Linked DNA regions of Homo sapiens: regions 1 and 2 are each linked to region 3. Evidence: fine-mapped expression QTL. A gene starts in region 3. Each other region holds a variant in brackets. All regions are shown on one strand. Distances are between the middles of the regions. Region 1 overlaps SPTLC1 (serine palmitoyltransferase long chain base subunit 1). Region 2 overlaps ROR2 (receptor tyrosine kinase like orphan receptor 2). Region 3 holds the start of SPTLC1 (serine palmitoyltransferase long chain base subunit 1).

Region 1 (4,244 bases), 61 kb after region 3:
ATCATGTAATCCGAAATAATTTAGAAATGCTCACAGCATAATGTTTTTAAAATCAGGTCCTAAAACTACAGTAAAATCCTGATTCTGAACAAAGTAATTTATATGTTTATACAAGAAAGACAAAAATTATCACCGTGTGGTATGATTAGCTGATTTATTTAATTGTTTTTTGTACTTTTCCATTTCCCAAGAATCCTACATTGAATATTTTTAAATCTAAGAAAATGTTTTTCCTTAAAGACAGGCAGAGGTAGCATGCCCTGTGTAGAAATTAGGGTGGCATCTCTTCATCCATCACTTCTAACATATTGCTAGCTCCCCAGCTTTCAGTTGTGAGTTGACAGAGTAAAGATGATTGAGCAACATCAGTGATATGTACTTTTTATTCCTCAACAAACTTTTTTTTTAGTGCTACTGCTGTGGGTTGTAAAATACCCCTTAAAGCATTGCTCTGATACTTTCTAATTCTGATCATTTCTAATTGTCCATTGGAGCAGAAACTTAGAGGCAAGAGATCTCTGAGTAAGAAGGTAATGGCAAACTCTATCTGTGGATCTCAGTATTTTTTGCAGTCCCACACACCTGAACCATGTACAGTTTCATACATGTGGGAGATTTATTAGTGACTTGCTCTGAGCAGAGTGTGTGAAGGTGTGTGTTTTTTGAAAAGATCTCTGCCGGGCGTGGTGGCTCAAAGCTGTAATCCCAGCAGTTTGAGAGGCCGAGGTCAGTAATCAAGAGGTCAGGAGTTCAAGACCAGCCTGGCCAACATGGTGAAACCCCATCTCTACTAAAAATACAAAAATCAGCTGAGCGTGGTGGCGGGTGCCTGTAATCCCAGCTACTCGGGAGGCTGAGGCAGAGAATTGCTTGAACCCTGGAGGCGGAGGTTGCAGCGAGCAGAGATGGCGCCACTGCACTCCCACCTGGGTGACAGTGAGACTCCATCTCAAAAAAAAGAAAAGGAGACCTCTCTACCCCACCACCTGGGAACATCATTGGACAAGCTCATAGTCAAATTTTACTTGATCCGATAATACATCAGTGGGGAGTGAGGAGGGAACAGGGTTGCCCCTTTTTTTGGGAGGTGAAGGAAAACGGTTTGAGTTTTTTAACTTTTTGTTATGGAAAAATGCCAACATATAAGAAGGAAACACAGTGGTATAGTGAAGCCCCCTGTACCCTTCTCCCAGCTTTGTTATCAGCATTACATCATTCTTGTGCCATCTGTTCCTCACCCCATCTTCATGATGATGACCTTCATTATAGTTGTTTTGGGTAAAATTGACAGACATTGAATCACATGAATGCAGCCATACAATTTTGACCAGTGATTATACCCATGTAACCCAGGAATGTCAGCCCCATTATGATGTAAAACATTCCCATTTCTTTAGAAAGTCCCTTAGGCCCCTTCCCAGTTGGAGGTTTGGAGGGTTTTGTTTGTGTTTTAATATTCTCAGAGGGCCTAATTAGTTTGTGTGTGTGGCGGGTCACCTAGCTAATGCTGTGAGCTGAAAAACGTCTGAGAGAAGATAGTACTGTTGTTCATCTCAAAATAACCCATCACAAACACTGAGCTTTCAATTCATTCAGAATATTTTTTTAGGAATAAATCTTGTAAGGTGAAAGTGCTGGGGAATATGTAACAGATCTTGTCTTCAGAGTTACTGAAATGTAAGATGTCTGCTTTTTCTCTTTTAAAGAATCCTCGCAAGGCTCGTGTAACTCGGCGTTTCATTGTAGTAGAAGGATTGTATATGAATACTGGAACTATTTGTCCTCTTCCAGAATTGGTAAGCAACCATGTTCAGCTGTAATTTTAATATTTGGACTATTTGACAGATGTGCCTTTTGTTTATGACCGCTTTTAGTGTATAACGTCTGCGTTGCTTTGCGCATTAGGCCTCATAAGCATATTTTGCTCAGATCAGGGAAGAAGAACAACACTGAATGCCAGTGCTGGCCTTCAAAGAGTAATCAAGACTGCTCTGTTGCCCAGGCTGGAGTGCAGTGGTGTGAACACAGCTCACTGCAGCCTTACCCTCCTGGGCTCAAGTGATCCTTCCACCTTAGCTTTCTGAGTTAGCTGGGACTACAGGCACATGCCACCACACCTGGCTGATTTTTCCCTTTTTTGTGGAGTAGGGGTCTCACTGCGTTACCCAGGCTGTTCTCAAACTCTTGGGCTCAAGCGATCCTCCTGCCTCAGCCTGCCAAAGTGCTGGTATTACAGGTATGAGCCACCACACCTGGCCAAAACTTAGCTTTAGCTTTTTTTTT[CT/T]CCCCCGCAAGACAGTCTTGCCCTGTCGTCAGGCTGGAGTGCAGTGGCGCCATCTTGGCTCACTGCAACCTCCTCCCCGAGGTTCAAGCAGTTCTCCTGCCTCAGCCTCCCGAGTAGCTGGAACTATAGGCGTGCGCAGACACCCCCAGCTAATTTTTGTATTTTTAGTAGAGACGGGGTTTCACCATGTCGGCTAGGATGGTCTCAATCTCTTGACCTCATGATCTGCCCGCCTGGGCCTCCCAAAATGCTGGGATTACAGGCATGAGCCACTGAGTCGGCCATACGTAGCTTTTAAGATCCAGCTTTATTTAGGTGAAATCAACGTATAAAATACACCTACTTTAAGGGTAAAGTTTGATAAGTTTTGACAGATGTATATACATCTGTATCACTGCAGCCATCCACCACCACAGTCAAGATACGGAATATTTTTATGTAAGACAATGTTTATCCAGAAAGAAAACTTTATCCAGAAAGCTTCCTGATGCCTCTTGGTAGTGAGTACCCATGTTGGCCCCAGACAGCCATTAATCTACTTTCTATTCCTGTAGATTAGTTTTACCTTTTGTAGAATTGCATATGAATGAAAGCATAGCTTGCTTTTTTGTTTTTTTGTGTTTTGTTTTTTGTTTGAGATGGAGTTTCACTTATGTTGCCCAGGCTGGAGTGCAATGGCACGATCTCGGCTCACCGCAACCTCTGGCTCCTGGGTTCAAGTGATTCTCCTGCCTCAGCCTCCCAGGTAGCTGGGATTACAAGCATGTGCCACCATGCCCGGCTAATTTTGTATTTTTAGTAGAGACAAGGTTTCTTCATGTTGGTCAGGCTGGTCTTGAACTCCCAACCTCAGGTGATCCACCCTCCTTGGCCTCCCAAAGTGCTGAGATTACAGGCGTGAGCCACCACGCATGGCCAAAACTTAGCTTTTTAATAGTGAAAGCAGCATAACTGTTTTTAGAAACCATGACCATTGAGATTTCCTTTATTGAGGTGAAATTCACATAACACAAAATTAACCAATTTAAATTGTACAGGACAGTGACATTTATTACATTTACCATGTGTGCAACCATCAACTTTAGGTCAAAAACCTTTTCATGACTCACGAAGAAGACCTCAAACCCATTAAACAGTCACTCCCCATTTTCTTCTCCCTCTAGCTCCCAGCAACTACCAATCTGCTTTCTGTCTCTATGGATTTACCTTTTCTGGTTATTTCCTATAAATGGCATCATATAATATATGACCTTTTCTTTCTGGCTTCATTCACTTGATGTTTTTAAAGTTCATTAACATTGTATACCATGTATCAGTATTTCATACCTTTTTAATGCTGAGTTATAGTCCATTGCATGGATAATACCACGTTTTGTTTTATATGTTCATCCACAGATGGATATTTGGGTTCTTTCTACCTTTTTGCTATTGCAAATAGTGCTGTTGTGAACATTTGTGTACAGGTATTTGTTTGAATTCCTGTTTTCAGTTCTTTTATGTATATATCTAGCAGGGTAATTGCTGGATTATATGGTAATTCTGTGTTTAACTTAATAAGGAACTGACATACTGTTTTCAACAGCGATTGCACCATTTTACATTCCTATCAGCTATATACCAGGGTTACAGTTTCTCTACATCTTTGTCAGCACTTATATTTTCCAGGGTTTTTTGTTGGTTTGTTTTAGCCACCCTAGTGAGCATGAGGTAGTATCTCACTGTGGTTTTGATCCTGTTTCCCCCAAATGGCTAATGATGCTGAGCCTCTTTTCTTGTTTTTTTTTTTGTTTGTTTGTTTGTTTGGCCATGCGTATACCTTTGGAGACATATCTATTCAGGTGCTTTGCCCATTTTTTAAATTGGGTTGTTTTTTTGTTTTTAAAAGAATTCCTTGTATATTCTGGATACTAGATGTTTATCAGATACATGATTTGCAAATATTTTCTCCTATTTTGTGGGG
Region 2 (4,244 bases), 170 kb after region 3:
TTCTTGTCTTGTTCCTGATCTTGGAGGAAAAGCTTTCAGTCTTTTAACATTGAGTGTGATGTTTGCTGGGCTTGTCGTATATGGCTTTTACTATGTTGAGGTGGTTTCCTTTCTATTAGTTTATTCTCATTTTTTGGTATATTTTTGACTTTTAGAACATGCTAACATTCTACAAGTTCAAAAAATAAATCACTAAGAATAGCAGGAAACTAGAATTGAATACAAAGAAGCACATAAATGCAAATGTGTTGCAAATGAGTAACATGACTACACAGATGGGGGAAAAGAAACCGTAATGTTGGACTCAGTGCTTTGACGGTGTATCCTCAGCCTACAGGAGAAACAACAACCTGAAAGCAAAACTGGCACCCTTCTTAGTAGGTTTGATTTTCATAGTGGTGTGGGTATATCCATTCTGAAATGACTTTGTGTGAATTGTGAGATTAGACAGATAAGAAGTGTGTTAATAGTGTTGTAGCCAGGGTGCTCACTGAGGAAGGAGGGAGATATAAGGATGGAATAGGGGAAGGCAAGGAAGAATCTGGAGGGGTTGAATTGGAATTGGAGGTATCAGTGTAACTCATGCTTTCATTTATATATATATTTGGTATATATTATGTTAAATTATGCACCGTAATTTGTAAAACATACTCTACACATAACAGTTATTTCTTAGCACCTCATTAGCAGTGAGCTTTCTTAGTGCCCAGATGTTGGTTTCTCAATACTGTTGCATCTTAAAGGAGCTAGAGAACCTTGGAGAAATGACTGAATATGGGATGGGGACAGGGAAAAATACACAATAAGCCTGAAACGTGTTCTTGTGTTAGAACGCAAGTGAGTGGTGAAAAGTGGTGGGGGCATGGCAGATGTACTCAGGGGCCAACTTGAAGGAGTTGCAGCCAAGTCTGGGACCATTTAGGCATCAGAATAAATAAAGACAAGCATGGATTATACAAGGAACAAAATAGGCATCCAGGACTCACCATTGATAATAAGTACATAACTATATGTATGAGTTTCTTAGGCCTGCTGTAGCAAAATGCCATAAACGGGGTGACCTAAAAACCAGAAATGTATTCTCCCACAGTTTTAGAGGCTAGAAGTCCAAAATCAAGGTGGCGGCAGGGCCACGATCCCTCCCAGGGCTCTAGGGGAGAAAACTTTTTTGCCTCTTTTAGTTCCTGGTGGCTCATGGTGCCCTTGGTTTGGAGCTATATCACTTTGACTTCTATCGCCATTTTCACATGACCTTTTATTGTAAGGACACCAGTGATTGGATTTAGGGACCACTGTAAATACAGGATGATTTAATCTCATGTTCCTTATTACTACTGGAAAGACTATTTCCAAATAAGGTCACTTTCTGAGCTTCTGGGTGGATAGGGAAACACTAATTTACTACAAAACCTAAGTGGGAGGGGTGGGGAAGAGAGGGCACTTCCTAGAGCAAAGTGCCAACTGATAAATGGGAGGCGAGTTGGGAATAATCACATTTTACAGCAATAACTGTACGGATTGATTTGGGCAGGCGTCATGAATGAGTGCTAAACTCATTAAAGAAGACATGTTTGATGAGGAGCAGGAAATGTCTGTGGTCTCAAAGGATTTCCCCACAGATTCCTTGTTGGCAAGGGACAGTTGCTAACTGTAGACTGGCGAGATTTGCATCCCAATACCTGGGTGGTCCAGGTTAATGCCACAGATTTGGGCAGATGGATGCCGTCCTTCCCAAGAGCATACATCATTTAGGTTGCTTTCTATCTGGGGAAGAGAGTCTGATTATGAGCAAAAATCAGCAAACGAAATGGAGGGACATTCTATGAAACAATGGTCTGTAGCAAAAATTGTCGAGGACATGAGCGATGAAACAGGGCAGGCCAGGTCCAGCTTGAAGAAGACCACAGGGGCCTGGTGTGGTGGCTCACGCCTGTAATCCTAGCACTTTGGGAGGCTGAGGCCAGCGGATCACAAGGTCAGGAATTCAAGACCAGCCTGGCCAACATGGTGAAACCTCGTCCTCACTAAAAATACAAAAGTTAGCCGGGCGTGGTGACATGTGCC[T/CT]GTAATTCCAGCTACTAGGGAGGCTGAAGCAGGAGAATCACTTGAACCCGGGAGGTGGAGGCTGCAGTGAGCCGAGATCGTGCCACTACACTCCAGTCTGGGCAGCAGAGCAACACCCTGTCTCAAAAATGAAAGAGAAGAGAAGAGAAGAGAAAGGAGGGCAGGGCGGGGCTGGGCGGGGTGGGGAGACAGTACAATACAGTACACCACAGGGTAGGTAGAGAAGACAGTACAATACAATACACCACAGGGACAAGGCAGTCCAGTGCATGTGCTGGCCCTGACCCTGTGCTGGAGGGAAAAACATGCTGTCGTGGATACTAACGGAACCACTGAGGAAATTGGAAGGTGAGCGTAAGTTATTTAAACGTGTTGTCAGACTTGTCTTTCCTGAGTTTGTTAATTGTGCAGAGGTGGTGTAAGAGGATGTCTGTACTCATAGGACATACACGCTGCCATGTTAAAGGATAAAGGGGCTTGATGTCTCCAGCCTACTATTGTCATCTCAGACCATGATAAAGCCCATGGGGCAAGAGTGACACATTAGTGAACCTGGGCAAAGAGTAGAGGGAAGTTTCATGCACCATTCTTGTAACTTCTCTGTAAAGGCGAAATGGTTTCAAAGTAAAGAATTAAGGCCGGGCACGGTGGCTCACGCCTGTAATCCCAGCACTTCTGGAGGCTGAGGCGGGGGGATCACGAGGTCAGCAGATCGAGACCATCTTGGCTAACACGGTGAAACCCCGTCTCTACTAAAAATACAAAAAATTAGCTGGGCACGGTGGTGGGCGCCTGTAGTCCCAGCTACTTGGGAGGCTGAGGCAGGAGAATGGTGTGAACCCAGGAGGCGGAGCTTGCAGTGAGCCGAGATAGCGCCATGGCAGTCTGGCCTGGGTGAAAGAGCGAGACTCCATCTCAAAAAAAAAAAAAAAAAAAAGAATTAAAAATGTTAAATTCTAACAATGGATGGCTGAAGCCAGTGCAATGAACAATGGAGTTTAGCACATGCTGTTAAAAGAAAGACTCAAGGCCCGGCGAGGTGGTGGCTCACGCCTGTAATCCCAGCACTTTGGGAGGCTGAGGAAGGTGAATCACCTGAGGTCAGGGGTTCAAGACCAGCCTGTCCAAAATGGTGAAACCCCATCTCTACTAAAAATACAAAAATTAGCCGGGGGTGGGGGCTGGGTGCCTGTAATCCCAACTACTCGGGAGGCCGAGACAGAGACAGGAGGATCACTTGGACCCAGGAGGCAGAGGTCACAGTGAGCGGAGATCGAGCCACTGCACTCTAGCCTGGGTGACAGAGCAAGACTCTGTCTCAAGAAAAAAAAAAAAAAAGAATTGCACGTTATGATTTTATTGGAAATGGTGTCACAGGGACTGAGGATGGATGCGATCCAGGTGCTTTTGAGGCCAGACAGCATTTCATTGAAGGGACTGAAAATCTCTGTCTTTGTCTAGTTTCTGGATTGCCCCAAGTTTTCTGATTTTTCTTTCTTAAGATTTTTATTATAGAAATTCCAACACACATAAAATTAGACGACTGCAGTGAACCGCTGTATATTTTTCACTCAGCTTCAACAGTTGCCACGTTCATTTCGTTTCATTTCCCCCGGCCTACTTAACAGTCCCCAGACAGCCTTAATTGTTTACCTGAAAATACTTCAGCATGAATGGTAAGAACTGTTTTTTTCACACCATCTCAATACTGTTATCAACAAGGAGCCCTGGTGTTGTCTGATACCCAGCCCTGCTGGAAATGGCCTTTCACACTTGATTTGCGCACAGCGGGGCTGAGTTGCCATGAATGCAGCTGTGCTCTGGGGTTCCCGTGGGCTTGGAAGCTCCGAATTCTGGAAGGTGTTGCTTCCCTGCATCACATAGGCTGTGGCCCTCTGGGTGCAGAGCCCAGGAACCTGGGCTTGGAGTGGCACTGAGTCTCTCTTGGACATCTTTGTGCAGGTGAATGTGGGGTGGGGCCCGGAGATTCAGGCCACGAGGCATCTGCTGAGCCTTGTTTAATCCAGCCCTTCCCAGTCCCGTTTATTCTGGAGCCCTCTTTTGGTGGGTGCTCTTGTTACCACCTCCTTCAGCACAGCCTGTGGCATGGACCAGTCTCCACTGTACTCAGAACACTGGCTTTATGAAAACAAATGCAGTATTAATGCGTAGAAAGGAGG
Region 3 (4,244 bases):
TACTTCCAACTCTCCAGGAGAGCAGGAAACGTGGGAATGGCAGCCTTCAAGGGGGTCCTCTGAGAAATGCAGGCGTGGCTGCTGGAAGGAAAGCACCCGGGGGAGGAAATGCACGCAAGCACAGGACTGTGAGCAGAGCACTGACACGGACTCCATATCGCCAGCTTATGTGGAAATGTAGCACATAGTGTAGCGGCATCATTATCTGGGGTAATACCTGAGGTTCATTGTCCCACAGCCATGGAAAACTAGGACGCGACACACCACAGTGAGGTTAAGAGCAGAAGTTTAATAGGCAAACGAAAGAGAAGAGCTATCTGTGCAGAGAAAGGGGTCCCAGAGAAAATGGGTTGCCAGTTCTGCGGTGAAACGCACAGGGTTTTATAGATGAGCTTGAGGAAGTGGCGTTTGATTTACGTAGGGAATGAAAGACTGGTTGGACCAGGTGTGCCATTTGCATAGTGCATGAAGAAGCTGGCCTTCCCACCCTAATATTTTATTCTGCAGATGGCTTCTCTACCTGACTGATGCCATGTTGCCTGTTCCTTCACTGTACACGTGGTGACAAAGAAAATGGAAGATGGAGTCTCCATATTGAACATACCTGGCTTCCAGGTAGTCTTTTTCTATCGGCACAACTGCCAGCATTCTCCCGTGCACTGCCAGCTTGCTTATCTATGTTTGTAGCTCAATTTTTCAGGCTGCTCTTTGCAAAAAAGAAATAATTTTGGGGTTGCTTTTTGTTCAGAAAGAAGCTCTGCTGAGGACTCTCTTACCTTCACTATCTGCCTAAATAATTTCTTTTTGGCTCCTGTATCAATAGCACTGGTACCATTTCAGAATTCTGGGGAAAGTCAGGGTTACTCAAATAAATGGCACTCAAAAAATTGTTATTCCTTTAGAAAAAAACATAATTAAGTCCCTTAACTCTCATTATCCAAAAATATAGTTTCCAGAGTAAAGAGCTAATTGCAAATAACAACAAACTGCTGCAAGAATGGTTGGAAACCATAGATGTGGTGAAGAAGGCCTTTCTAAGCAATATGCAGATCCAGAGGCAAAAAACAGACTGAAGCACTACATAAAATTTAAAATTAAAGTATGATGAAAGAGCAGAAACAACTAGGCGGCAACTGAGCAAAAATATTTTTCACATATGAAACAGAAAAATATAAGATATTCAGAATGTATAGAGTTCCTACAAATCCATAAGAAGGCAAAAATAACCAATAGAAAAATGGATTAAGAATATGAATTGGCGATTCATACAGTCTATAAATGCCAATAAACATATAAGAAGCTGCACAACCTCATGAGTAACCAGAAGCATCAATAATAAAGGATAGTGAGGTATCATTTTATCTCCATTAAACTGGCAAATTTTTTTAAAAGATTGATAATATCCATCATGGACTAGAGCATAGAAAAACTTCCAAATTATTTTAATTGGTTGAGCCATTTTGGCAGTACTTATCAAAATTAATAACGTGCATAGTCTTCAGATATATCCCATGTTGAAAAAACTGGTCAGAAAAACTCCAACATGCACAGAAAGATATACACACAAGGAACATCGACAGTTATGGCAGCATTATTTGTAATAGGGGAAAGGTGGGAACAACATAAGTATTCACCAATAGGGAAACGTTTACATAAAATGGAACGATGAATATACATAAATTATTCCATGGAAGTCTTCAGCCATTAAATATGAGATATATTAGGAAAAAAATGCTAGAAAAAAAATTTAAAAAAAGTTGTAGAAAAGTCTTGTCCCTATGATCTCAATTATATTTAAGAAATCCAATCCAATTAAGTATGTGCGCGTGCATACTGTTTGCATATGCATTGGAAGGCTCTAAAAGGTTCTTTACCAAACTGCTATATGATTTAATACCTGCAAAGCCTTGGCCTATGTCTGACAAAACAGGAAGTGCTATATGGGTTGGCTATTTTTGTGTATAATTATGCATTTCTTAATGATAATGCATTGCTGGATTACTTATGCTACTAAACGTAAACGTATTGGCCAGGCGCGGTGGCTCACGCCTCTAATCCCAGCACTTTGGGAGGCCGAGGCAGGCGGATCACCTGAGGTCAGGAGTTTGAGACCAGCCTGACCAACATGGAGAAACCCCGTCTCTACTAAAAATACAAAATTAGCCAGGCGTGGTAGCCCACGCCTGTAATCCCGGCTACTCGGGAGGCTGGGGCAGGAGAATCGCTTGAACCCGGGAGGCGGAGGTTGCGGTGAACCGAGATCACGCCATTGCACTACAGCCTGGGCAACAAAAGCGAAACTCCGTCTCAAAAAAAAAAAAATAAAGTAAACGTATTGCAATCATTTTAACTCTCTGCGCCCAGCTGATGACCAAGTGTAAGGCCCGTTCATTACTACTTTCTCCATCCTGAATCCAGCAGGGAGGGTAATAGGACACAAGGTAAACAATTCTTGGAAAAACTGCGGCATCCCACCTGACCCCGTCCAGCCTCCTGTCAACCAGTGCGCAAGTGCGAGTAGGCGGTGCCCAGCGCTCCGCCGCCCCGCCCTCTGCGGAGGTGATAACGACACTGAGCAGCGACGCGCACTTTTGGGACGCGCTTGTGACCCGCCTTCCGGAAGGAAGCGGCTAACTATGGCGACCGCCACGGAGCAGTGGGTTCTGGTGGAGATGGTACAGGCGCTTTACGAGGTGGGCTCCGCGCCATTAGCGGTCCGCGACCACACCCGGGCCCGGGGAGGGTGGGAGGACGCGTGTGGATTTGTGGCCTGAGACCTCGGCGGGACTGGCTCGGTCACGCCCAGACTCGGTGCCTCTTGCTGGAAGGACTGCCGGGAGCTTCTAGTCCCAGCGGTTGAGTGTAGGGAGGAACGGGCGGGGGCGGGGGCTGGGACTGAGGGTCTCGGTTTGAATTCTTATGCTCCGGGTCCCCTGGAAGCTCCGGAAAGGAACACGTGTAAGGGGACGCAGGAGACAGGTCTGCAAAAACCAGAGTTTAGACGGACGATAAAACGGAGTGGTGAAAATGAGTGGAACACCTTCGTCTGGGAAGGTCCTAAGGAAGTCAGCTCTTTGGAACTACGGTACAGTTCGTTGGGGAATAAAATTGTAATAAATTGGAGTTTGTTTTTGTCGAAAAGAAATCAAGTGACTTAGGATTTGTGAATAAAAAATAGTTTGTCATTCTTCTGCGTACATCAGTTTTCTGTCTTATAAAGATACAACTAGTTTAGTCGATTTTTATTTATTTATTTTTGTTTTTTTTTTTTGAGACGGTGTTTCGCACTTGTTGCTCAAGCTGGAGTGCAAGGGCGTGATCTCGGCTCACTACAACCTCCGCCTCCCGGGTTTAAGCGATTCTCCTGCCTCAGCTTCCCAGGTAGCTGAGATTACAGGCATGTGCCACCATGCCCGGCCAATTTTGTATTTTTATTAGAGACGGGGTTTCTGCATGTTGGTCAGGCTGGTCTCGAACTCCCGACCTCAGGTGATCCGCCCGCCTTGGCCTCCCAAAGTGCTGGGATTATAGGCTTGAGCCACTGCACCTGGCCGTAGACTTTTAAAGGAAGAATAGTTAAGAGTTTTTTGAAGCCTAGTTATTTCAGATACATAAGATAATAAGAAACCAGAATGTCAATCTTAGTGTTCATTCATTTAATAACTGAGAGTCCCCGTGCTGTCTTGCAGAGCTATTCATTGGGCACTGAAGAACTTATTTTATTTTATTTTATTTTTTAAAGACAGGGTTTCACTCTGTCGCCCAGGCTAGAGTGCAGTGGTGCGATCAGCTCACTGCTGCGTTGACCTCCCAGACTCAAGCGATCCTCCCACCTCAGACTCCCGAGTAGCTGGGACCACATACCACCATGCCCAACTAATCTTTTTTTTTTTTTAATAGAGACGGGGGCTTGCTGTGTTGCCCAGCCTGGCCTCGAACTCCTGGCCTCAAGTAATCCTCCTGCTTTGGCCTCCCAAAGTGCTGGGATTACAGGCATGAGCTACCACACCCAGCTGCAACTGAATTTTTAATTTAACTTAAATAGCCACGTGTAACTTAGTGACTGTCCACATTGGACCACACAGATCTAGATGCTAGGGATAGTGCGGTGAACAAATAGGCAGAAGTCCCTGTGCTTAAAGAGCTTACATTCATTTCAAGTGAATTTCACTTTACTTTTGATGATTTAATATCACCAAACTTAATATCACCGTCTACTGGTAGGGGTAATGACAGTGTCTTCC

What was found. PIP is the estimated chance that this variant, and not a neighbour inherited with it, causes the effect. A credible set is the group of variants that fine-mapping cannot tell apart.
Region 1: its variant is the best candidate, but not a certain one, in a credible set for the expression of SPTLC1 in whole blood (INTERVAL, PIP 0.54).
Region 2: its variant is the best candidate, but not a certain one, in a credible set for the expression of SPTLC1 in whole blood (INTERVAL, PIP 0.67).

What each region holds. Positions count from the first base shown.
Region 1 is chr9:92,052,957-92,057,200 of GRCh38, reverse strand. SPTLC1 (serine palmitoyltransferase long chain base subunit 1) reads left to right here. Exons shown (of 15, transcript NM_006415.4): 8 at 1,707-1,796. Among named protein-coding and RNA genes, the nearest start is that of SPTLC1, 60 kb to the left of the region's middle. RefSeq lists an enhancer at 872-1,492. The variant CT/T (reference allele first, on the strand shown) is at 2,284.
Region 2 is chr9:91,939,753-91,943,996 of GRCh38, reverse strand. All of the region lies in intron 1 of ROR2 (receptor tyrosine kinase like orphan receptor 2), which reads left to right. Among named protein-coding and RNA genes, the nearest start is that of ROR2, 8.4 kb to the left of the region's middle. RefSeq lists an enhancer at 3,504-4,018. The variant T/CT (reference allele first, on the strand shown) is at 2,065.
Region 3 is chr9:92,113,763-92,118,006 of GRCh38, reverse strand. SPTLC1 (serine palmitoyltransferase long chain base subunit 1) reads left to right here and starts at 2,594. Exons shown (of 15, transcript NM_006415.4): 1 at 2,594-2,693. The coding sequence starts at 2,637. RefSeq lists an enhancer at 2,032-2,091.